3 separate regions of the Homo sapiens genome follow, and all the other regions are linked to region 2. The links come from fine-mapping of genetic effects on gene expression. A gene starts in region 2. Each other region holds a variant in brackets. All regions are shown on one strand. Distances are between the middles of the regions.

The links. PIP is the estimated chance that this variant, and not a neighbour inherited with it, causes the effect.
Region 1: its variant is fine-mapped to the expression of GSPT1 in whole blood (TOPMed, PIP above 0.99).
Region 3: its variant is fine-mapped to the expression of GSPT1 in whole blood (TOPMed, PIP above 0.99).

Annotation. Positions count from the first base shown.
Region 1 is chr16:11,978,433-11,986,613 of GRCh38, reverse strand. The region is part of intron 1 of SNX29 (sorting nexin 29); the gene reads right to left. Among named protein-coding and RNA genes, the nearest start is that of SNX29, 5.8 kb to the right of the region's middle. The variant A/C (reference allele first, on the strand shown) is at 4,179.
Region 2 is chr16:11,912,866-11,921,046 of GRCh38, reverse strand. It overlaps GSPT1 (G1 to S phase transition 1), which reads left to right and starts at 5,091. Exons shown (of 15, transcript NM_002094.4): 1 at 5,091-5,678. The coding sequence starts at 5,327. RefSeq lists enhancers at 3,151-3,651, 4,952-5,101, 4,710-5,647 and silencers at 4,702-4,761, 5,472-5,541, 5,632-5,871, 5,912-5,961.
Region 3 is chr16:11,962,878-11,971,058 of GRCh38, reverse strand. It overlaps TNFRSF17 (TNF receptor superfamily member 17), which reads right to left and starts at 5,849. Exons shown (of 3, transcript NM_001192.3): 1 at 5,605-5,849; 2 at 4,718-4,864; 3 at 2,991-3,489. The coding sequence starts at 5,734. The coding sequence ends at 3,212. It also overlaps a transcript of NPIPB2 not described here and the pseudogene UBL5P4. RefSeq lists enhancers at 5,622-6,061, 6,182-6,301 and a silencer at 7,813-7,982. The variant C/T (reference allele first, on the strand shown) is at 4,615.

The DNA of each region.
Region 1 (8,181 bases), 66 kb before region 2:
AAAGAATCGTGAAGAGAAGGAACGTGGATAAGTGCTATCATGTAAGCAGAAACGCTCAAACGGAGATACAATGCAATTATGCAAAATGCATATATAGTGTATGCTTTGAACAAAGGCAGAAGAGGAATACCTACAAATTTAAATATTAAATGTGCCAGGAATGTATATTTAAAGGTATATTCTGTTTTCACAATAGTTTTTAATGTCATTTTGGGTTTTCGCTTTTTTTTTTTTTTTTTAAGTTGTAGGAGGAAAGAGCAGATTCCAAGAAACACAGATGCAAGCGAAGAAAAATGAGATGGAGTGGGCAAGTTTCCCTCCTCGGAGGAAGCGGGGTACTGCCTGGGTGAGCAGAGGAAACACTAGTGCCAGGTCTCTGAAGGGCTCCCGGACAGCAAAAAGTCAGGGCAAGGAAAAGAGTCCTCACTCCCCTTGCAGGATTCAAACTGCTCAGCCCCCACCTAACCTGCTCCCCTACTGGCTCTCCCACCTCAGGAAAAGGCAATTCTGGTCAGGTACAGTGTCTCACACCTGTCATCCCAGCACGCTGGGAGCCCGAGGTCAGTGAATCACCTGAGGTCAGGAGTTCGAGACCAGTCTAGCCAACATGGTGAAACCCCATCTCTACGAAAAATACAATAATGAGCCAGGCATGGTGGCGCTCGAGGCGGGAGAATCACTTGAACATGGGAGACAGAGGTTGCAGTGAGCCAAGATCACGCCACTACAGTCCAGCCTGGGTGACAGAGCAAGACTCTATCTCAAAAAAAAAAAAAAAAAGATAAGGCAATTCCAACCCCTTTCAGCTGCTCAGGAAGAAAACCTAGGAGCCACCTGCCTCAGGAAGCCTCTGCTGCCACATCACATTCCTAACCACCCCATCCAAAATTACAGCAGCCCTTCCCCTGAAGTTCATCCTCCATCCAGACAATTTAGTAGGATGGACTCCCAGCCACAGGCTCCAGACTAGACTTATGGTCCAGACCTGGCCAACCAAAATCACAGTGATGGGTTGCAGGATGACCACATGGCCAGCCCGCTCCATGGAGGAGCGGCTGCCTGTGGGTGAAGCCAACAGAGAGAAAAGACGAGTTGACAGCCAGACAGAAAGATAATCCTGATAGTCCTTTAACACGTGGATCCAGCTAAGCTTGAAGCCAGCCCTATGTCTAGACTTTTCCATTACAAGACACCATATATTCCCATGCTGTTGAAATCAGTTTCATCAGCTTCTGCCACATTCCACTGAAAAGAGCCCTGGCTAACACACTCAGCACGGTCCCAACAACATCCTTTTGCTTCAACAGACCCCAGTGGTAACAACCTTTTGATAAGTGATAGAGGATGCACCAAACTATCATCCAATGTTTGCTGAATGTTGAACCCCAAATTTCTGGCCAACCTCTGCTTCCACCAGAGCCCTTATTCTTACTAGCAGCATTGAAACTAGTGCAACCACTTTGGAAAAAATCAAATCAATTCAACTGAGTTTAATTATAGGCCAAAAAAAAAAGGAATCAAAAGTGATAAACTCTTCGATGTTAATGCTACTTTTGGAAAATCTCCCTACAGACATAATCTAAGGGATGGAAAACTACCTTGAAAAAAAAATGTTCACTGCATCATTACTTATAACAGAAACAAAAAAGAAAGAAGGAAAGCCAGGTACAGTGGTTCACACCTGTAATCCTGGCACTTTGGGAGGCTGAAGCAGGAGGATCACTTGAGGTCTGGAGTTCAAGACCAGCTCGGGCAATATACTGAGACCCTGTCTCTACACCAAATGAAAAAGTTAGACGGGTGTGGTGGCGCACCTTTAGTCCTAGCTACTCAGGAGGCTGAGGTGGGAGGGTCATTTGAGCCCAGGAGATCAAGGCTGCAGTGAGCTATAATTGTATCACCACTGCATTCCAGCCTGGGCAACAGAGCAAAACCCTGTCTCAAAAGAAAAAGAGAGGAAAGGGAGGAAGGGAGAGAGAGAGGGAGAGAGGGAGGAGAGGGAGAGAGGAAGATAGGCTAAGTTTCTACAACTAGAATCAATAGTTAAAAGTTGTACTACATGCAAAATGATGAATGATGGACTGTACATTCCATAAAAGTGATCAATAGTGAGCCCATGGAGCAATGTGGTAAAGTTTTGTCCTGAAATGTTAATGGTGAAAGCAAGATGCAAAGTTGTATGATAATAATACAATTACTGCAGCCTATATCAGTCTCAATCTTTTCTTTTTTTTTTTTTGAGACAGGGTCTGAGGGGTCTGGCTCTGTCACCCAGGCTGGAGTGCAATGGTACTTTCATGGCTCACTGTAGCCTCAACCTCCCAGGCTCAAGTGATCCTCCCACGTCAGCCCAGCCTCTCGAGTGGCTAGGACCATGGGCATGCACCACTACATCCAGCTAATTTGTGTGTGTGTGTACAAAGACCGGCAGACGGGTCCCACTATGTTGCCCAGGCTGGTCTCAAACTCCTGGGCTCAAGCGATCCTCCCACCTTAGCCTCCTAAAGTGCTGGAATTACAGGTGTGAGCCACTGTGTCCAGCTCAATCTTTTTCATTCTTTCCCCCTAAGGACACTTTTTAGACACTTTTTTGCTAATCATCCCCTCCATGAAAAAGTAATACCACAGATACAATGTACATCTGTTTATGTACTATATGCCTATCTGTGCTTTATACATCCAAGTAAGTTTTTTTTCTCTCCTGAGAACCAGTGTTCACCCCCTTGGGGGTGATATCACCCCCACTGCAAATATACGGCCTATGTATAGACAAGACAGTGGCAGATGGAAGGTGCTTTATCTGGAAATATGCTCACATTGCCACAATTTGGAGAAATCTATAAAATCTTGGATTTTAGTTCCAAATTTTAAGAGCTCTAAGCATTTGAGTTCCTATCAGTTACCTGGAGTCAAGCAACCAGGAGGCAAGATAGCCAACATCAGTAGGACCTAGTCCATCGCCAGTTGCTAGCAGAGGTGGGGGTCAACTGTTTGCTGATGGTAGAACATGTACTTCTTGCATTCCACCATCATAGATCAATCCAGTGCCTTCACAAGGGGGAAAAAATGTTGATAGCATCACTTTTCTACTTTGAATGAAAACCACAAATATTCTTTTTTCATTCATTCATTCATTTCAGCTGATTATTTATTCTAAGTACAAGCTACTGTCAGAGAGGGCCCAGTCAGTGCCGAGGAGAAAACTGTGACCTTCAACATTCCAGAAAACTAAGAAAAAGCAGCTGGGCACAGTGGCTCACAACTATAATCTCAGCACTTTGGAAGGTTGAGACAGGATGGCTTAAGGCCAGGAGTACCAGATAAACCTGGGTAACGTAGTAAGACCCAATCTCTACAAAAAAAAAAAAAAAAAAAAAATTGTAACCCAGGCGCAGTGGCTCACACCTGTAATCCTAGCACTTTGGGAGGCCAAGGCAGGTGGATCACCTGAGCTCAGAATTTTGAGATCAGCCTGCACAACATGGCAAAACCCATCTCTGCTAAAAATACAAAAAATTAGCCAGGCGTGGTGGTGCACGCCCGTAATCCCAGCTACTCAGGAGGCTGAGGCAAGAGAATCACTGGAGCCCAGGAGGCAGAGGTTGCAGTGAGCCAAGATAGTGGCACTGCACTCCAGCCTGGACAACACAGTGAGAATCTGTCTCAAAAAAATATTCGTTAATTAAAAAAAATTTTTTTTAATAAAAAGCTGCCAAAATATACATTAACGTCAGGCAAGAAACAGCAGTAAATTACCCATTAAGCCCAAAACTCTGATATATGATGAATCTTAGAGCTCATCTGTTACACAAATTGTTTGATCACTATGGGCCTGGCTTTCCTCACCCTTGAAACAGGAATCTCAGTGTCTCCTTTACTGATGGAGACCGGGCACGGTGGCTCACGCCTGTGATCCCAGCACTTTGGGAGGCCGAGGCAGGTGGTTCACGAGGTCAGGAGATCGAGACCGTCCTGGCTAACATGGTGAAACCCCATCTCTACTAAAAATACAAAAAATTAGCTGGGCGTGGTTGCAAGCGCCTGTAGTCCCAGCTACTCGGGAGGCTGAGGCAGGAGAATGGCCTGAACCCAGGAGGCAGAGCTGGCAGTGAGCCGAGATCGCATCACTGCACTCCAGCCTGGGTGACAGAGCAAGACTCCATCTCAAAACAAAAAAA[A/C]AAAAAAAAAAACTGATGGAAAGGAGCATCCAGGAACTTAAGGATGAAGACTTACAAAAGACAAAACTTGAGTATAATGACTTTCTGGCTCTACGAGTTCTACTTTCCCAGTAACAACAAACACATATCTGAAAATCAGCATTCCTTACATAGTCTGAAGAGGTGGGCAATCAAGTATTCCTATCTACTGGGTTCTTTAAAGAAAAATAAACAAATTGTGACCACCACCCTACAATAACCACCCACACATGTCTGGCAGGCATCTTTCTTCCTGATAATCTTTTTAGGTCTACATACATATATGAATCCATAAATATTGTCTTCAGTATGTTTTAATTTGCATCAAGGTATATATTTTAGGTATAATTCTACACCCTGCTTTTTTTTTTTTTTAATTGAGATGAGATCTCGTTATGTTGCCCAGGCTGGTCTCAAACTCCTGGACTCAAGCAATCCTCCCAACTGGGCCTCCCAAAGGGCTCAGATTACAGGCGTGAGCAATCACGCCAGACCCACCCTGCTTTTCTTACAGAACATTAACGTTGAGATGCAGCCACGGTGATGTGTATGAATCCGTATCAATCCTTTTAACATTTCTGAGGCTTTCCGTCAGGTGTCCACAGCACACTAGGTTTACCTACTCCCCAATTAATGGTCATCTTAGTTGTTTCTGGCCTCATGATACCCATTTATCTTGTATATATATATTACCTAGCGCCATTCCACTGCCTGGTTATTTGTACTTAATGTATTCAGCTTTGCACCCATCTCTCCTCTGACTCTACTCAAATATTTTCAACTCAAAAATACAGCAGACTCTAATTACCAATTTATAGCACATACAAGAGACTGAAAAACACTTTATGCCACACCAAAAGGATGCAATCAGCAGAGGCCTGCAAAGGATCCTTGGGATAAATAACTCTGTTTCCTTCAACAACAAATGCAAGGGGGAAAAGGAGAGAGATTAAAGGGCAGCCTGTAGTTTAAAAAAAGACTGCTTCAAAAAACACCACCAAGAAAGTGAAAAGAGCCCAGGCATGGTGGCTCAGGCTTGTAATCCCAGCACTTTGGGAGGCTGAGGCAGGCAGATCAATTGAGGTCAGGAGCTGGAGACCAGCTGGCCAGCATGGTAAAACCCCATCAACACTAATAATACAAAAATTGGCCAGGTGCGGTGGCTCATGCCTGTAATCCCAGCACTTTGGGAGGCTGAGGTAGGCGGACCACTTGAGGCCAGGAGTTCGAGACCAGCCCAGTCAACATGGCAAAACCCCATCTCTACTGAAACAACAAAAAAGTTAGCTGGGTGTGGGGGTGTGCACCTGTAGTCCCAGCTACTCCAGAGGCTGAGGCAGGAGAATCACTTGAACCTGGGAGGCAGAGGTTGCAGTGAGACGAGATTTCTCACTGCACTCCAGCACTCCAGCCTGGGTGATAGAGCAAGACTCCAACTCAAAAAAAAAAAAAGAAAATGAAAATGAAAAGACAAACCATGGAAGGGGAGAAAATTTTTGTAAACAATAAACCTGATAAGGGACTAGTATCTAAAAATTACAGAGGATTCTTATAGATCAGCAATAAAAAGACCACCGAATGTTAAAATGGCCAAAGGATCTGAAGAGGCATTTCTCCAAGGAGGATACACAATTGGTCAATAAGCACAAGATAAGATGCTCAACATCACTAGTCACTAGGGAAATGCAAATCAAAACTACGAAGAAATACCACTTCACACTCACTAGAATGTCTATGATTAAAAAGACTCTTGGGGAAGGTGTGGAGAAACAGAACCCTCATATGCTGCTGGTGAGAACTGAAAATGGTGCAGCCACTTTAGAAAACAGTCTGACACAGCTCCTCAAATGGTTAAACAGTTACCATATGACCCTGCAATTCCACTCTTACAAACATGCCCAAGAGAAATGAAGAGACTTGCCCCCACAAAAACATGTGCGTGAACGTTCATAGCAGCATTATTATTCAGAACAGCTAAAAAGTAGAAACAACTCAAATGCCCATTTTTGATGCATGAATAAACAAAATATGATATCCACATAAAGGAATATAATGTGGCCACAAAAAGGAATGAAGTACAGATATATGCTGTAATGTGGTTTAACCTCAGGAAAATTATACCGAGTGAAAAAAGCCAGATAAGAGAGGTCACATACTGTATGATTTCATTTATATGAAATACCCACAACAGGCACATCCAGAGACAGAAAGTAGATGAGTGGTTCCCAGGGTCTGAGGGGAGGGGGAAAGATGAATGACTGCTAATGGGTACAAAGTTTCTTTCTAAGGTAATTAAAATGTTGTGAAATTAACTATGGTGATGTTTACACGGCTCTGAAAATACCAAAAAATAAAAATAAAATAAACAGGAGGTGAGGGAGAGACCTAAAAGATTTAAAACACAAACCAATGTGCACTGTTTAAACCTTACTTAGATTCTGAGTTTTTAAAATACACTATAAAATAAAATGTTATGGCCGGAGCACAGTGGCTCATGCCTGTAATCCCAGCACTTTGTGGGGCTGAGGCAGGTGGATCATATGAAGCCAGGAGTTCACAAGTGGATCACATGAAGCCAGGAGTTCACAAGTGGATCACATGAAGCCAGGAGTTCGAGACCAGCCTGGCCAACACAGCGAAACTCCATCTCTACTAAAAATACAAAACTCAGCCGGGCATGGTGGTACATGTCTATAGTCCCAGCTACTTGGGAGCCTGAGGCAGAAGAATTGCTTGAACCCAGGAGGCGAAGGTTGCAGTAAGCTAAGATCCTGCCACTGCACTCCAGCCTGGGTGACAGAGCGTGACTCCATCTCTAAAACATAAATAAAATAAATAAATAAACAAAATATTATAAGTGGGGAACAGAAGAAAGAGGAAATATTTCCATGCCACTTTATTTTATCGTGTACCAGTTACCCACCCCACAAGTGGGGAAACCCACTTTCAACTGCATTCTCAAGAAACAAAATATATCGTTGGACTTCCCCTTCCATTTTCACAGACCACTTTTTCTGCCTCAATTACAATGTTTCCAAAAGAAGGTTTTCATCCTTAATGCTTTTTCCTAAAAAGTCATTTGTTGGTTTCCTTTTCTCTTTGGCTTTAGATGTAACGATTTTTTTTTTTTTTTTTTTTTTTTGGAGACTGAGTCTCACTCTGTTGCCCAGGCTGGAGTGCAGTGGCATGATCACCGCTCACTGCAATGTCCACCTCCTGGGTTCAAGAGATTCTCATCCCTCAGCCTCCCGAGTAGCTGCGATTACAGGCGCCTGCCACTATGCCCTGTTAGTTTTTGTATTTTTAGTAGAGATGGGATTTCACCATGTTGGCCAGGCTGGTCTCAAACTCCTGATCTCAAGTGACAGCCTGCATCTGCCTCCCAAAGTGCTGAGATTACAGGTGTGAGCCATCACACCCAGCAGACGTAATGATTTTTTAATTAAATTTTAAAGTTTTCTTTCTTTTGTTTTTTTGTTTGTTTGTTTGTTTTGAGACGAAGTCTTGTTCTGTCGCCCAGGCTGGAGTGCAGTGGCTTGATCTTGGCTCACTGCAACCTCTGGCACCGGGGTTTAAGCGATTCTCCTGCCTCAGCCTCCCAAGTAGCTGGGATTACAGGCGCGTGCCACCAGAGTTTTCATATTATTTCTCCTTGAAAGATAAACTGATCAATTTCTATTGGCTTATCAATTTCATTGTCTCTTGTGCTAAAGGTAAAACGAAAAGGGTCCAGAACTGTGAGCTTGTGGCAAAGACTCCTTGGTCATAGTAAAAGGAAAAGATTTTCAGACAGTGCCTAGTCCCAGCCCTCCTCTCATAACTAGGCAAAAACAACCCCACTCCTACCCCACATGAGCTCTTGCAGAAACAACAGCAGGCAGCTCTGAGATTCTGACAATGCACCTCGTGATATTCACAGTACCAGTCACTTTAACTGATGAATGTTATTTAGTCATTACAAGCCTAGGAGATAGGTACTACTAGG
Region 2 (8,181 bases):
CTCTCGGTGGGCAGAGGGGCTGAAGGTTGAGTTAATCAGCAACGGGCAATGATACAATCAGTCATGGCTATGTAGGGAAGCCTCCATAGAAACCCAGAAGGACAGGGTTCAGAGAGCTTCTGGGTTGCTGAACACGTGGAGGACCCTTGAGGATGGCACACCTGGAGACAGAATAGGAACTGTATGCCCCTTCCCAGCCCTGTGCATCTCTTCCACGTGGCTGTTCCTCTGTATCCTTTGTAATGTCCTTTATGGGTAACTGTAAGTAAAGTGTTTCCTTGAGTTCTTTTTTTTGAGACGGAGTCTTGCTCTGTTGCCCAGGCTAGAGTGTGGTGGAGCACTTGGCTCACTACAACCTCTGCCTCCCATGTTCGAGCGATTCTCCTGCCTTCAGCTTCCTGAGTAGCTGGGAATACAGGCACCCACCACCACAACCGGCTAATTTTTGTATTTTTTTGGTAGAGACAGGGTTTCACCATGTTGGCCAGGCTGGTCTCAAACTCCTGACCTCAGGTGATTCGCCTGCCTCGGCCTCCCAAAGTGCTGGGATTACAGGCATGAGCCACCGTGTTTGCCCTGTTTCCTTGAGTTCTGTGAGCCACTCTGGCAAATTCCCTGAACCCATGGAGGGGGTCATGGGAACCCCCAATTCATAGCCAGTTGGTCAGAAGCACAGGTCACAATGTGGAACCTGTTATTGGCATTGGAAGTGGGGGCAGTCTTGTGGGACTGATCCCTTAACTTGTGGGATCTGTCCTAACTCTGGTTAATGTCAGAATTGAGTGAAATGATTGCTTATCCTGTTGGTGTCTGTTGAAGAATTGGTTGGTGGTGGGTAGAAACTCCCTCACTTACTGGTGGAGTACAACTGGCCCTTAAACAATGTGAGCCTGAACTGCGAGGGTCCCACTTACACATGGATTTTTTTTTTCAATCAAATGAGGATCAAAAAGACGGGATTCTCAGGATGCAGGAACTCAAGTGTAGGGAGGGCTGACCTTTCATACACACAGTATAGATTGTGGGATTTTAGTATGGTTGGATTTTTGTATCTGAAGGGCTCCTGGAACTAATCCCCTTCCTCTACCCAGAGAGGACTGTACTCTGTGTTGAGCGGTGACTTGTGTGTGAGAGTAGGAAAAACTCTGATTTTTCCTAAGTTTTCTAAATTATTAGTCCTGGGGTGGGGTGTGGTGGCTCATGCCTGTAATCCTAGCACGTTGGGAGGCTGAGGCAGGAGGATCACTTGAGGTCAGTAGTTCCAGATCAGCCTGGGCAATATGGTGAAACCCTGTCTCTACTAAAAATAGAAAAATTACCAGGGGGTTGGGGAGGGGGGGTGGCGGGCACCTATAATCCCAGCTACTCAGGAGGCTGAGGCAGGAGAATTGCTTGAACTTGGGAGGTAGAGGTTGCAGTGCGTGAAGATTGCTCCACTGCACTCCAGCCTGGGCAACAGAGCAAGACTCCATCTCAAAAAATAAAATTAAATTAAATTAAAATAGCTAAGTGCGGTGGCTCACATCTGTAATCCTAGCACTTTAGGAGCCCAAGGCAGGCAGATCACTTGAGATCAGGAGTTTGAAACCAGCCTGGCCAACAAGGTGAAACCCTGTCTCTACTAAAAAAAAATACAGGCCAGGCGTGGTGGCTCACGCCTGTAATCCCAACAGTTTGGGAGGCCAAGGAGGGCAGATCACAAGGTCAAGAAATTGAGACCATCCTGGCCAACATGGTGAAACCCCGTCTCTGTTAAAAATACAAAAATTAGCTGGGCGTGGTGGTGCACACCTGTAATCCCAGCTACTCAGGAGGCTGAGGTGGGAGAATCGCTTGAACCTGGGAGGTGGAAGTTGCAGTGAGCTGAGATCATACCACTGCACTCTAGCCTGGGCGACAGAGCGAGACTCTGTCTCAAGAGTCTCAAGTTATTTAAAAAATAAATAAATAAATAAAATTATTAGCCCTATGTGTCAGCAGTCTTAAATGAGTATCAAAGGACAGTATCATCCCAGCTAAATTGATTAAGCACCTTTTATACACCGGGCATTACACTAGGCAGTGGAAATGTAAAGAAGATTAAGGTAAGACCCTGCCCTCAAGTCGCACAACTTACACACAACTTAGCACAACTAACAAGAAAGACTTTTCCCTTTTCCGCTGGAGCTCTGTTTGGCAGGTCAAAGCTTTGGAAAACCAATGGAGTGGATTTTTTCCTGAATATCCATAATTATCCTATTCAGAGACAAGGAAATTAATGACATCAACTGCTTTTCTAAGCAGCAGTCTGAGCAGTTTCTGCCTTTGTCCCTAGAAAAAGTACCAGGCAGAAGGAAACTCTGCTAATTCAATTAGATGTGAAGAACTAACCTATGAGAAAGTGATCATTCAGTGCTGTAGGAGTGCTACATGGAGGAGAGTAGTATTCAAAGACAAAATGCTTAGAGAAGGATGTGTAGTTCATTATTTGAGTCAGCTGATTGTGTTGACATTTTCTTAGGGGTGGGTGGGTGGGGAGTGAAAATCTGGAAAGAGAAGGCATTTCATTTAGAACACATTGTATTTTTTCTTGTGAATATAAGATGAAAATCTTTTATTCAATAGCAATACAGGTCTCGCATAAATGAAGTTCTAATTTTCATAACAGTTGTTAAGTTCTCTGTAAATCTGACAGTCACTTAATACCAACTTTAAAATGGACATTGTTAAGTATGATTCAGTGAGGTCTTCAGGTATAATAATAGGCTATAACCAAAACTTCCTATTAAGCAGAGGCAAACTCTGCCGGGTGTGGTGGCTCACACCGATAAGCCCAGCACTTTGGGAAGCTGAGGCAGGTGGATCGCTTTTTTTGTTTGTTTTTTGAGACAGAGTCTCGCTTTGTCGCTCAAGCTGGAGTGCAGTGGCGCGATCTCGGCTCACTGCAGGCTCCGCCTCCTGGTTTCACGCCATTCTCCTGCCTCAGCCTCCTGAGTAGCTGGCAATACAGACGCCCGCACACCACGCCCGGCTAATTTTTTGTATTTTCAGTAGAGACAGGGTTTCACCGTGTTAGCCAGGATGGTCTCAATCTCCTGATCTCGTGATCCGCCCACCTTGGCCTCCCAAAGTGCTGGGATTACAGGCGTGAGCCACCGCGCCCGGCCTAACTTGTATTTTTAGTAGAGACGGGGGTTCCACCACGTTGGCCAGGCTGGTCTCGAACTCCTGACCTCACGTGATCCATCTGCCTCGGCCTCCCAAATTGCTGAGATTACAGGTGTGAGCCACTGCGCCTGGCCGGTATGTGTTTTTTTAATCCCTAAAGCTTGGTAGTTTAATATTAAATTCAAATTACTGTAGCCTAGGACTCTTTTGAAAAATACTTGACAGCTTCGTTTTTGACCTATCTCATTAGGCTGAGTTCTCTTTTATCTTTACAATACAGATGTTTAAAATTAAAATACAGATCGGCCGGGCGCGGTGGCTCACGCCTGTAATCCCAGCACTTTGGGAGGCCGAGACGAGCGGATCACGAGGTCAGGAGATCCAGACCATCCTGTCTAACACGGTGTAAACCTCGTCTCTAATAACAATACAAAAAAAATTAGCCGGGCGTGATGGCGGGCGCCTCTAGTCCCAGCTACTCCGGAGACTGAGGCAGGAGAATGTTGTGAACCCGGGAGGCGGGCTTGCAGCGAGCCGACATCGCGCCACTGCACTCCAGCCTGGGCTACAGAGCAAGACTCCGTCTCAAAAAAAAGAAAAAAGAAAATTAAAATACAGATCTAGATCTGGATTTTGTTAGGTTTTTTTTTTTTTTAACAACCTAAGGTTGTTCAGAAACATCTATTCTATGTATGTGCTTCTTTAGTCTGTAATTTCTAGGCAGATTAGTTGCACCCTGTCTAGACTCCTTTCAGAAAAATACTAACAATATGTTTTTCTCTGTCTTGGGCTCCACATGGGTGAATTACAGGAAAGCTTAACAGGTACTCAGAGCAACATTTTTTCCTACTTCATGAAGGGCCTAAATGCGAACTCTTAAGTATTTCTCGTTTGCTTTTGTTCTTTTCCCAGGTTTACCTAATCTGTAAGTGTAAGATGCAGTCGATGAAAAGTACTATGGGAATTCTTGAGCAAATCAGACCATTCAAAAGGAAACCACTTCACGTAATGGTGCATAAGGAAGCTAGACTCACCAAAATAACCCTGTTAGGTAAGCCGGATACACCATGGAATACGGCAATCCTCTGTTTAATTTGCAAACCCTTTGGCGGGGAGGAGGAAAGGATGGAAAAATTTGGGTGAAGGCTTTATATGACTAGTCAAACAAACGGTGAGTCATTGAAATTTTCCAGTTAACAATCCCTTCTGCCTGGGCAGAGCCTGGGCCCCAGCGCTTTATGAGCCACACTGCAGTTTTAAGCCGGAATATCTCACGGTTTTATTGTTTCTTCCACGAAATGATTACATAAAATGAAATCAGCTTTGCAATCTGCACCGGCTTTGAAATGAAGGGCAAAATCTGGCTGGGGGTGAGGAGAAAGAAGGTGGAGAGAGAATAAGGTACGGAGACTGTGAGGCAGAGAACGCAGGAAAGGTGGTGAAAAGAGAGTACAAGAATTTTCGGGAGCTGAGTGTATTTTTCTTCCCCATGTTATAGATGCTGTCCGTTTTCCCCCAGCCTGTGTCCAGCAGGCCAGAGTGGACCCCTCCTATGGGCTAAAATACTCTCGGTCTTCGGCCCAGCACAGAGCTGCACCAACCAGGGCCTGCCGCTGCCCCCCCACCAGGTGACAGGTGGGGCCGCCGAGCGGCCACCAGACCTCCGCCTCCTCGCGTTGCCTGCCGGGAGCCGGAGCCGCTTCCGGTTGCGCCCTGTCCCTGAACTTCGACTCCCGTCGGCCCCCGGGAAAACCGCAGCGGGGTAGCGCGGGCGCTGCCGGAACTTGTAGTTCCACCTCCCGCCGCGCTAAATAGCCGGAAACGGGGGCGGCCAGAACAGAGAACTACCGAGGCGAAGGTACGGGTGGCGGCGAGGGGTCAATCCGCGCCGGGGGTGGGGTTGGCTGTGAGGCCGTCGGAGGTGGTTGGGTGGGAGGAGATCCGCTCACACACACGAGGAGGAGGGTTGAGCTGCCGCCGCCGCCGCCTCTGTCGTCGTCGCGAGTGTGGAGTCGGGACTGGAGCTGCTGCCGCGGCGACGCCGGGGATCTTTGTCGCTAGCTCCCGGCCCTTCTGCCCCGCCGCCTTCCCTCAGTCAGCGTTGCCCACTCCTCTCCGGCCGGGCGCCCCTGCCTCCATTTCCCGCTCTCTGTCCACCACACACACGGCCCCCCCGATCATGGATCCGGGCAGTGGCGGCGGCGGCGGCGGCGGCGGCGGCGGCGGGAGCAGCAGCGGCAGCAGCAGCAGCGACTCGGCGCCTGACTGCTGGGACCAGGCGGACATGGAAGCCCCCGGGCCGGGCCCTTGCGGCGGCGGCGGCTCCCTGGCGGCGGCGGCCGAGGCCCAGCGGGAGAACCTCAGCGCGGCCTTCAGCCGGCAACTCAACGTCAACGCCAAGCCCTTCGTGCCCAACGTCCACGCCGCCGAGTTCGTGCCGTCCTTCCTGCGGGGCCCGGCAGCGCCGCCACCCCCAGTTGGCGGCGCCGCCAATAACCACGGAGCCGGCAGCGGCGCGGGAGGCCGTGCGGGTAAAGGCCCGGGACGCGGGAGGAAGTCCGGCCGGGCGCCGGAGCCCACATGGCGTAGGGGTGCGGTCCGGGGGCGCGCGGCCCTGGGGCCCGGTCGGCACGTGGGGCGCTGACAGTGGCGCCGTCTGCCTGGGTGGGGCGCCCCGAGCCCGGGAGCCGGCCTTCGCGGGGCGGCCCGCGGCGGTGGCCGGGCGGGGAGCGGACAGCGGGCAGCGCGCCCAAAGACCCGGACCCGAGTGCCGCCCCTCCGCGCCCCTGCCCTGCTCTGGAGTCCGCAGTTACCCACTTGAGATGGGAACCGTATGGAACGGAGTGGGGGCCGCGGCGGATCCCTGCCACGAGGCGCAGAATGAGGACAGATGGAGCCAGGAGTCATTTGGGTGGGCGTTTAGAGATCCCAGGAGTTGGGGAGGACGAATGGCCGAGTTTTCCTTTCACCTTAGGCCCAGCCGAGAGAGCGTCTTCTGCTGCGTTTTCTACTATTGAAACTGTAATTACGGTTTAAACTGTCCGTGGCCCCCAACCGTCCTGAAGGAATCCCAAGATGCATTGCAGCCTTGTGATCGGGCAGAAACTTGGCTATCAATACCAAGATCTGTTTTACCCTTAGCATTGTGTACGCTTCTAAAGTTTACAAAGTGCCACAAAGTTAGGATTCCTCACTTAATGTGTGATAGGAGACTATATTGATTTGTGTCTTTTTAAAGTGAAGCTTACACTTTTATCCTTTGTCAGCGACACGTTTAGAGAATTTTCATTGCTGTAAAATCGTTGACCTTATTCAGATTGCTTGGAATAACTCACTGTGTTCGTGCATCAGTAGTTCAGTCTATTTCTTCAGACACTTGAGCATTTGTTATAATTTAATAGTTCTCACGTGTCTTTCTGACCGTAGCTAGTAGACATACATTTTCTAATCCATAAAATTTCGAGTTAACTTTGGTTTTTAAACATCTTCCCGTACTTAGGGGTTGCTTAAGTCGTAGGTAGCATGCTTGCAGGTGCTGACGTTGTAGGAATATCCGGTGAGTGAACTTATGTATTCTCATAATGGTGCTTATTTTGTGGTAGGTAGCTTGCTTTCAGGTACTGATTTTGTGGGAATGTCAAATGAGTGAACTTAAGTATTCTCTTCCTAATGGTGCTTATTTTAGGAACTATCAGTGTTTCCTTAAAGAGAAAATGAAAAAGGAAGGAAAAGGCTGAACGTCCTTTCATCATTTAGCCAGGACGTTAGTGGGGTGGGTCATGACATCCAGCGCATTTTAAGTGAGAACATATTGTTGATTTCTCTCTTTAAAGTTCTGTATTGTGGTGGTTCTTAGATAAGTGGACATTATAAAAGTGCTCCAGGAGTTTGGTTTCTACAGAAACTTTTGTCACCGTTTGCTCTTTCGTGGTAAAGGGATAGTGTCTGGAGAAACACTCTGATGACGTATGTACGTCAGCACGGTTGATTTGGTGGTTTTGTTGACAGTGGCATTTATTTGTGTGGGTGGTTGATGTTTTCTTTTGAGGAGATCGAGCACTTTCAGGGTGGTACGGCTCTAGACAATGTTTTCCTCTTGAATAAGGAAGCTTAGCTTGTAATTCTTGACTTACATCAAGCCATTTTGACTGCCTAACCTAGTTCACTTCTCAGCTCCTAAAAGTGCCCATTCCCTACCTTACTTTGCAGATTCCGTTTATCCAGCCATTTTCTTTCTTGGCTCTTCCTCCTTTCTGTGGAGCCACCAGCACCACTCTGACTAGACTCAGGACTCCATTTACAGCCTGTCCAGCGAGTCATCCGGGGATAACCAACCTTGGTCTAGAATGGTCACTGTTGGTGACTAGGTATTACCTCTTATGCGGGCTTTCTCTCTTCCTGATAGTTGCTAATTTGTAGTTACACCTAATCTTTTTCTCTTTGACAGTGCTAGAAATTGGAGATGCGAAAACCTGTAGGGAAGTAGCTGTCAGTAAGAGAATCCGTACAGCATGGTCAACTTTCTTGTTTTTAATCAAAAAACTATTTTGGTGTTACCGACTTTACCAATTGCTTGTACCAAAATGCCAGTTCATGTTTTTAAAAAATTATCCTATGTAGGATGTCTATTTGGAAAAGAACTGATTTTCTAAGTTGAGGTCCAGGGTTATATTGAGACTGTTGGATTGCATGTTCCAGACTATTAAGTCCATAAAAAGCCAGCATCGGAGAACAATCAGTGCTTATAAAAAGCAGGGGGATAAATAGGAAATAACACCTGGATTGGAACTTACAAAGGGGGAACCAAAAAGTTTGCAAGGTTTTTTTGATAGCGAGGAAGTGGACAATAGGGCTAGCATGTTCTGTTCTTTAGTTAAGCCATAGCCGAAATTTGTGCTGGGTGTGTTTTTAAACTGCATGCCGGGAAAGCTGTTGAAGGAGCCTGGAGAGTCAGACCTTGGGATTCAGTATTGACCTTGGATCTCTTTGAAAACTAAAGAATATAGGTTCCTTAAGAAATAATTAAGTGGAACC
Region 3 (8,181 bases), 50 kb before region 2:
ATGGCGAAACTCCATCTCTACTAAAAGAATAAAAAAAATTAGCCGAGAATGGTGGTACATGCCTGTAGTCCCAGCTACACAGGAGCCTGAGGTGGGAGGGTCACCTGAGCCCCAGAGGTCGAGGCTGCAGTGAGCCAAGATTATGCCACTGCACTCAGCCTGGGCATTGGAGTAAGACCCTATCTCAAAAAAAAAAAAGAAACGAGTAAGAAAATGCTGATTTTAGGCCAGGCGCGGTGGCTCATGCCTGTAATGCCAGCACTTTGGGAGGCCAAGGCAGGTAGATCACGAGGTCAGGAGTTCAAGACCACCGTGTCCAACAAGGTGAAACCCCGTCTATATTAAAAATACAAAAATTAGCCAGGCGTGGTGGCAGGTGCCTGTAATCCCAGTTACACGGGAGGCTGAGGCAGGAGAATCGCTTGAAACCAGAAGTTGGAGGTTGCAGTGAGCCAAGATCGTACCACTGCACTCTAACCTGGGCAACAAGAGTGAAACTGTGTCTCAAAAGAAAGAAAAAAAAAATGCTGATTTTAAACACTGGAAGGCCAGGTGCAGTGGCCCACACCTATAATTCTAGCACTTTGGCAGGCCAAAGTGGGTGGATCACCTGAGGTCAGGAGTCCGAGACCAGCCTGACCAATATGGTGAAACCCCATCTGTAGTAAAAATACCAAAACTAGCTGAGCATGGTGGCATGCGACTGTAGTCCCAGCTACTCAGGAGGCTGAGACAGGGGAATTGTTTGAACCCAGGAAGCAGAGGTTGTAGTGAGCTCAGATAGCACAACTGCATTCCAGCCTGGGCGACAGAGTGAGACTTCATCTCAAAAATAAATAAATAAATGAATAAAAATAAAGACTGGAAATGTGGGACAAGACAGGTTTTCACCATGTTGGTCAGGCTGGTCTCTAACTCCTGACCTCAGGTGATCTGCCTGTCTCGGCCTCCCAAAGTGCTGGGATTACAGGCATGAGCCACCACACCCGGCCATACCCAGGAGTTTTTGTGTGCTTAAAATGAGTTAGTATAGGCCGGGTGTGGTGGCGGGCACCTGTAATCCCAGCTACTTGGGAGGCTGAGGTAGGAGACTCTTGAACCTACCTCTTGAGGTAGAGGTTGCAGTGAGCCAAGATGATGCCAGTGCAGTCCAGCCTGGGCAACAGAGCAAGACCCCGTCTCAAAAAAATAAAATGAGCTAGTACAGGTGAAGCACTTAGAACAGTCCCTGGCACGTTAGTAAGACTATATAAGGGTTAGATATGATTATTATAGCACCACTCACATTTTGGGCTGAAAACAGTATGTCGTGCACCGTTATCACAGTTTGCGATTACACATTTACTTGTGTAATTATAGTAATGCCTGATGCTTTCATTAAGCTGGAAGCTCACAAGGCCAAGAACCACCTGTGCACTGCACACTGAATTCGTCTGGTTGATTCTAGGCTTCTCCTGTTTGCAGAAGTACATAAGTTAGCTTTCCTTTAACAATAAAGAGAAAAGGCCAGGCACAGTGGCTCACGCCTGTAATCCCAGCACATTGGGAGGCCAAGACAGGTGGATCACGAGGTCAGGAGTTCAAGACCAGTCTGGCGAAGATGGTGAAACCCTGTCTCTACTAAAAATACAAAAATTAGCCAGGCGCAGTGGCGGGCACCTGTAATCCCAGCTACTCGGGTGGCTGAGGCAGAGAATTGCTTGAACCCGGGAGGCAGAGGTTGCAGTGAGCTGAGATCGCACCACTGCACTCCCGTGTCAACGACAGAGCGAGACTGTCTCAAAAAATAAATAAATAAAATTCAAAAATCAAGAGAAACATCCGATCCTTCCTGAAATCTGTATGTATGTATATCGGAGAGAAGCGCCCTAACCATAGAAGCGTATGACTGGGGCCGGGCGCGATAGCTCACACCGGTAATCCCAACACTTTGGGAGGCCAAGGCAGGTGAATCACCTGAGGTCAGGAGTTCAAGACCAGCCTGACCAACACAGTGAAACCCCATCTCTACTAAAAATACAAAAATCAGCAGGGCATGGTGCCACGTGCCTGTAATCCCAGCTACTCGGGAGGCTGAGGCAAGAGAATCGCTTGAACCTGAGAGGTGGAGGTTGTAGTGAGCTGTGATCATGCCACTGCACTCCAGCCTGGGCAACAGAGCAGGACTCCGTTTCAAAAAAAAAAAAAAGAAAAGAAAAAGAAATTGGTTACTGAGATCTACAGAATGCTGTTTTTTTCAGTAAGTCAAGCGTTTAGAGGTCTCTAGTGAGAAGATTGTCATGTCAGCATGTTCAAGGTGATGAGCATCAGCTAGGATGATTGAGGTTGTTTGCAACAACCTCAGTGGAGAGTGGATAGTGTGGAGAAGGTCTGTGTTAAATGCTACACAGATAACACCATTGTGGACCTTAAGAAGCTGATTACAGCCCAGACTAGGGCTGTAACAAGAACAACCCTTTCAGGAACAAGACTCCTGAATAAGTGGTATACAATTTTTAAGGACCACATATCTTTGGGGCACTATAAAATCCAGCAGAAGATGAAGCTGGAGGTCTTTTTGTTTGTTTGTGTTGTTTTGTTTTGAGACGGAGTCTCACCCTCTTGCCCAGGCTGGAGTGCAGGGATGCTATCTCAGCTCATTGCAACCTCCACCTCCCAGGTTCAAGCGATTCTCCTGCCTCAGCCTCCTGAGTAGCTGGGATTACAGGTGCCTACCACCATGCCCAGCTAATTTTTGTATTTTTAGTAAAGACAGGGTTTCACCATGTTGGCCAGGCTGGTCTCAAATTCCTGACCTCAGGTAATCTGCCCGCCTCGGCCTTTCAAAGTGCTGGGATTACAGGCATGAGCCACCGCGCCTGGCCAAAACTGGAGCTTTATTATCAATAGGTTAGAATTCTTTCCCCCTCCCACCTTTCTCTCCCACCCTCACCCCCCACACTGGTATACATGCTTGTTTTTAAAAACTCACGTTAATAAAAACTTAGATGTCAGGAAAAAAAAGAGTTTAATCATGAAACCAAGGAAGTTTCTACCATTAAGCTCCCAACAGTAACCTAGAGAAATATATCTAACATAAAGAGTTTCCACAGTTAGAGGACAAAAAGCTGTATCGGCAACTGAAAAATACAGTCATCCTAAAGAGATCTGACACATCATCTATTCTGACAAAAGATTTTTAAAGTGGCACTGCTCGAGTCGAAATGGTTAATTACCTAGCAGAAATTGATTTCTCTATCTCCGTAGCACTCAAAGCAGCTGGCAGGCTCTTGCAATAGTCATTCGTTTTCGTGGTGACAAGAATGGTTGCGCCTTCCTCCATAGCTGGGAGTGGAAAGCAATGGTCAGAGTCGACCTTCGGTTTGCTCTTGATGCAGTCTTCACAGGTGCATTCTTCCACCGTGTACTCGAGGCCTCTCGGAAGAATAATTTCATCACCAGTCCTGCTCTTTTCCAGGTCAATGTTAGCCATGCCCAGGAGACCTGATCCTAATTATGTAGAAACGGAAACATTAACCCAAACTTCACAGAGAATGTGGTCATGAGAGTCTTAGCAGTACACATCGGGACTCAAAGCAATGTGAGAGAGATTTTTTCATTTTTTAGAGGTGGGGTCTTACTGTGTTGCCCAGGCTGCATTCAAACTCCTGGGCTCAAGCAATCCTCCCACGTTAGCCTACAGAGCAGTCGGGACTACAGCTCCATGCCACCACACCCAGCTTGAAACAGATCTTTTCAGTAAAAAAGAATGAGTATGTGCTGGGCCCTGTGGCTCACGCCTGTAATCCCAGCACTTTGGGAAGCTGAGGCGGGCAGATCACTTGTGGTCAGGAGCTTGAGACCATCCTGGCCAACATGATGAAACCCTGTCTCTACCAAAAAGTACAAAAATTAGTCGGAGGTGATGGCACATACCTATAGTCCCAGTTACTCAGGAGGCTGAGATGGGAGAATTGTTTGAACCCAAGAGGCAGAGGCTGCAGTGAGTTGAGATCACGCCACTGCACTCCAGCCTGGGCCACAGAGCGAGACTCCATCTCTAAATAAATAAATAAATAAATAAATAAATAAATAAATAAATGCATACAGAAATAGGGCAGTGGCTGTACATGCTTGGGAATCCAATCATGAGCAAAGGTGCTGCAGAAGTATTTTTATCTTAAGAGGCACTTAAGTAGAACATTCATTTTTCTGGGACTGGTTCTCTATTGCTTAAAAATAATTATTTTTTAGATGATTCCTCAAATAATTCAGGAGCAACTGGTTATTCATTTCTAACATTTTTCAGTAGTAAAATGTTCACTCAAGCAAAGAACACCTATATTTGTATAAAAACATGACCATAGATCTTGACAAATATGCTTTTCCTGACAGTAGCAGACCTGGCTAGGAGTTTCTGATAATGTGGCATTTAATCGATGTGCTAACTTTAGTCAAAGAGACTGATGTTTCCCAAGAAAGCCTTAGTACTTTCAATAGAGTAATTAACAGTGGAAGAATCCTGGAGAAGACTGACATTGTAGAAAATCTGCCAAGGTGTCAAAATCAGAATGAAGATGGCTCACCTCTACCAAGTTCATTTAATGTAACAATGTTCTAACACATTCGAAAGGG[C/T]TGTAACGAAGTGAAATAGTCAACGCTAAAAAAAGAAAAGGAACTGAAACTCACAATAGCCATCCCCTGGAAATAGATTTCAAAGATTCACCATCAAACCAACCTGTGTTTTTAAACTCGTCCTTTAATGGTTCAGAGTTTATCTTCCTTAGCAAAAACATTAGCACGAAAACTGCCAAAGAAATTATTAAGCTCAGTCCCAAACAGGTCCAGAGAATCGCATTCGTTCCTTTCACTGAATTGGTCACACCTTTATGAAAAGAACATCAGACAGATAATGAGCTGATAACATAATATTCACATACTTTATTGTTATTATTTATTTATTTATTTTGAGACAAAGTCTTGCTCTGTTGCCCAGGCTAGAGTGCAGTGGCGCGATCTCGGCTCACTGCAACCTCCACCTCCCAAGTTCAAACAATTCTCCTGCCTCAGCCTCCCGAGTAGCTGGGATTACAGACCTGTGCCACCATGCCCAGCTAATTTTTTGTATTTTTAGTAGAGACAGGGTTTCACCAGGTTGGCCAGGCTGGCCTCAAACTGCCGACCTCAGGTGATTCACCCACCTCGGCCTCCCAAAGTGCTGGGATTACAGGTGTGAGCCATCCACCGCACCCGGCTGTCATACTTGATTATTTTGCTAAAATAATGAATTATGGATTGTTTTGATAGCAAAATAATCAAGTATGGATTATTTCCATTCAATCACCTTAATTAATGAACATTGACTTTTAAATTCTAAATATCACTTAATTAGAAGAGCTGATTTTTAAAAAAAATCTATGTTGCTAATAGTGCTGAATCATATCAAGTTCAGTTCCAAATAATTACTTTGTTTCCATAAACATTAAAATCACTGCCTTGCTTCCTTTCTCTTTTTGATTCAAGAAAACTCACCATCATGCCCATTATGTTGATTCTCTGAATAAGCAGTCCATATAGACAGAATAGTTCACACCAATGAATAATCGTTCAAGCAATATTACTTACTTGCATTACAATAACGCTGACATGTTAGAGGAGGAGTATTAGAAGAACATCGAAGTTGACAAGGTATGCAAGCATGCAACAAACTGTCAAAATATTCATTTTGGGAGCACTGCCCAGCCATCTGCAACATGATCACAAAAAGAAAACAAGGGAGCTACAGAAAGAACAGCCTGGAAGGACAAGTAATATCTCTACAAGAATTCCAGAGCAAATGCAGCAAGAGCAGCTAGAATGTTGAGAACAATGAACTTCGCCTGCTTCGTGGGTTCTTACGGGGGCTGTCTGTGTCTTCGCGGCAGCTAAGGATTTGAATACCACATCTAATTCAAGTTTCTAAGTTTGAGTCTTGGATGGGGTAAGAGACAGGGTGTAAATATCAGGGCATATCACATCTGAAACAGAAACTGCTTATTTATAGAAGAAATTTCTCAGCCAGGTGACAGTTGCAAGATGCAGACAAGCCCACAGCATCAAGCCGAATGTTCAGTAACAGTTTCTGGAACATCTGTTAATAAGCTGTACTCTGTGAGAGGTGCCAGGGAGATAGACAAGACAAGGTCTGTGCTGTGCCCCTTAAGATCTTAACATTGAGGCCAGCTGCAGGGGTTCACACCTGTAATCCCAGGACTTTGGGAGTCAAAAGGCAAAAGGATTGCTTGAGCCCAGGAGTTCAAAATCAGCCTGGGCAACATGGCGAAACCCTGACTTTACAAAAACATTTTAAAAAGTAGTCTGGTGTAAGCTGGGCGCCGTGGCGCTCTCCTGTAATCCCAGCACTTTGGGAGGCCGAGGCAGGTGGATCACTTGAGGTCAGGAGTTCCAGAACAGCCTGGCCAACATGGTGAAACCCCGTCTCTACTAAAAATACAAAAATTAGTCAGGCATGGTGGCAGGCACCTATGATCCCAGCTACTCAGGAGGCTGAGGCAGGGAGACGTGCTTGAACCCAGGAGGCGGAGTTTGCAGTAAGCCAAGATCAGGCCACTGCGCTCCAGCCTGGGTGACAAAGCAAGACTCTATCTCAAAAAAAAAAAAAATTCTACAGGAAGATCAGAGGTGATGCACTAAGGAAGACGCACAATGCCACTGACAGAAAAAGAGACATTTAGGGTAAGAGCTCGTGGAAAGAGGGCTGAGAGGAAGATAGGTTTGGGGTATTATAATAATAATACAATAATCTATGTTCCATTGTTGAAAATTTAGAAATACAGATGAGCAGATAAAACCATTTTAAAAATCCACAGTCCAAGCATCCAGAAGTCATCACCGCTAACACCTGGTGTATCCCAGAAGTTGCAAACAGACCTGCCGATGCGATGTCTTTTGTTTCACCGATCCCTGAATTCTAGATAGATACATTTATATAGTGCATTTTTCTGTTTACATAAATGGATCACTTGAATTTGCCTTTTTTTTTTTTTTTGACAGAGTCTCACTCTGTCTCCCAGGCTGAGTGCAGTGACACAATCACAGCTCACTGCAGCCTCCACCTCCTGGGTTCAGGTGATCTGCCCACCTCAGCCTTCCAAGTAGCTGGGACTACAGACATGCGCCAGCACGCCTGGTAAGTTTTGTATTTTTTGTAGAGATGGGTTTTTGCCGTGTTGCCCAGGTTGCTCTCAAACACTTGGGGTCAAGTGATCCACCCACCTCGGCCTCCCAAAGCGCTGGGATTACAGGTGTGAGCCACTAAGCCCAGCTTGAATTTGCTTTTAACCATACTGAGTGAAATACCCATATAGAGACGTCCAGATGTTTGTCAAAAATGCAGGACTCAATTAAAATTTGAGGAAATGGCAAACTCCTAATTCAGTATAGTGATTATCTCTGAGGTAAGTGGTGGGGAAGAAGGGGAGCACAAAAAAGGCTTCACCTGTGTTTATTATATTTTCTTTATTAAGCTGAGTGGTGGATACATTGATATTTGTTGTTTTCCTTTTGTTGTATTTTTCTTATTCTTTACACTTTCTTAAGGCCCAAGGAGTGTGCCAAGGAAACCTGCCATCCCTTCTACTTTATTTCATCCTCCAAGCACCCCAACCTTTAAAAACTTATTCTTTTTTTTTTTTTTTTTGAGCTGGAGTTTCACTGTTATTGCCCAGGCTGGAGTGCAATGGCGCGATCTCGGCTCACTGCAACCTCCACCTCCCAGGTTCAAGCGATTCTCTGGCCTCAGCCTCCTGAGTAGCTGGGATGACAGGTGCATGCCACCACGCCTGGCTAGTTTTTGTATTTTTGGTAGAGACGGGGTTTCACCGTGTTGGTCAGGCTGGTTTCGAACTCCTGACCTCAGGTGACCCACCGGCCTTGGCCTCTCAAACTGCTGGGATTACAGGCATGAGCCACCTAGCCTGGATGATTTTTTATTTATTTGTTTGTTTGTTTGTTTGTTTGTTTTGAGATGGAGTCTCCCTCTGTTGCCAGGCTGGGGTACAGTAGTGCGATCTGCAACCTCTGCCTCCCGGGTTCAAGTGATTCTCCTGCCTCAGCTTCCGGAATAGCTGGGATTACAGGCATGCGCCATCATGCCCAGCAAATATTTGTATTTTTAGTACAGACAGGATTTCACCATATTGG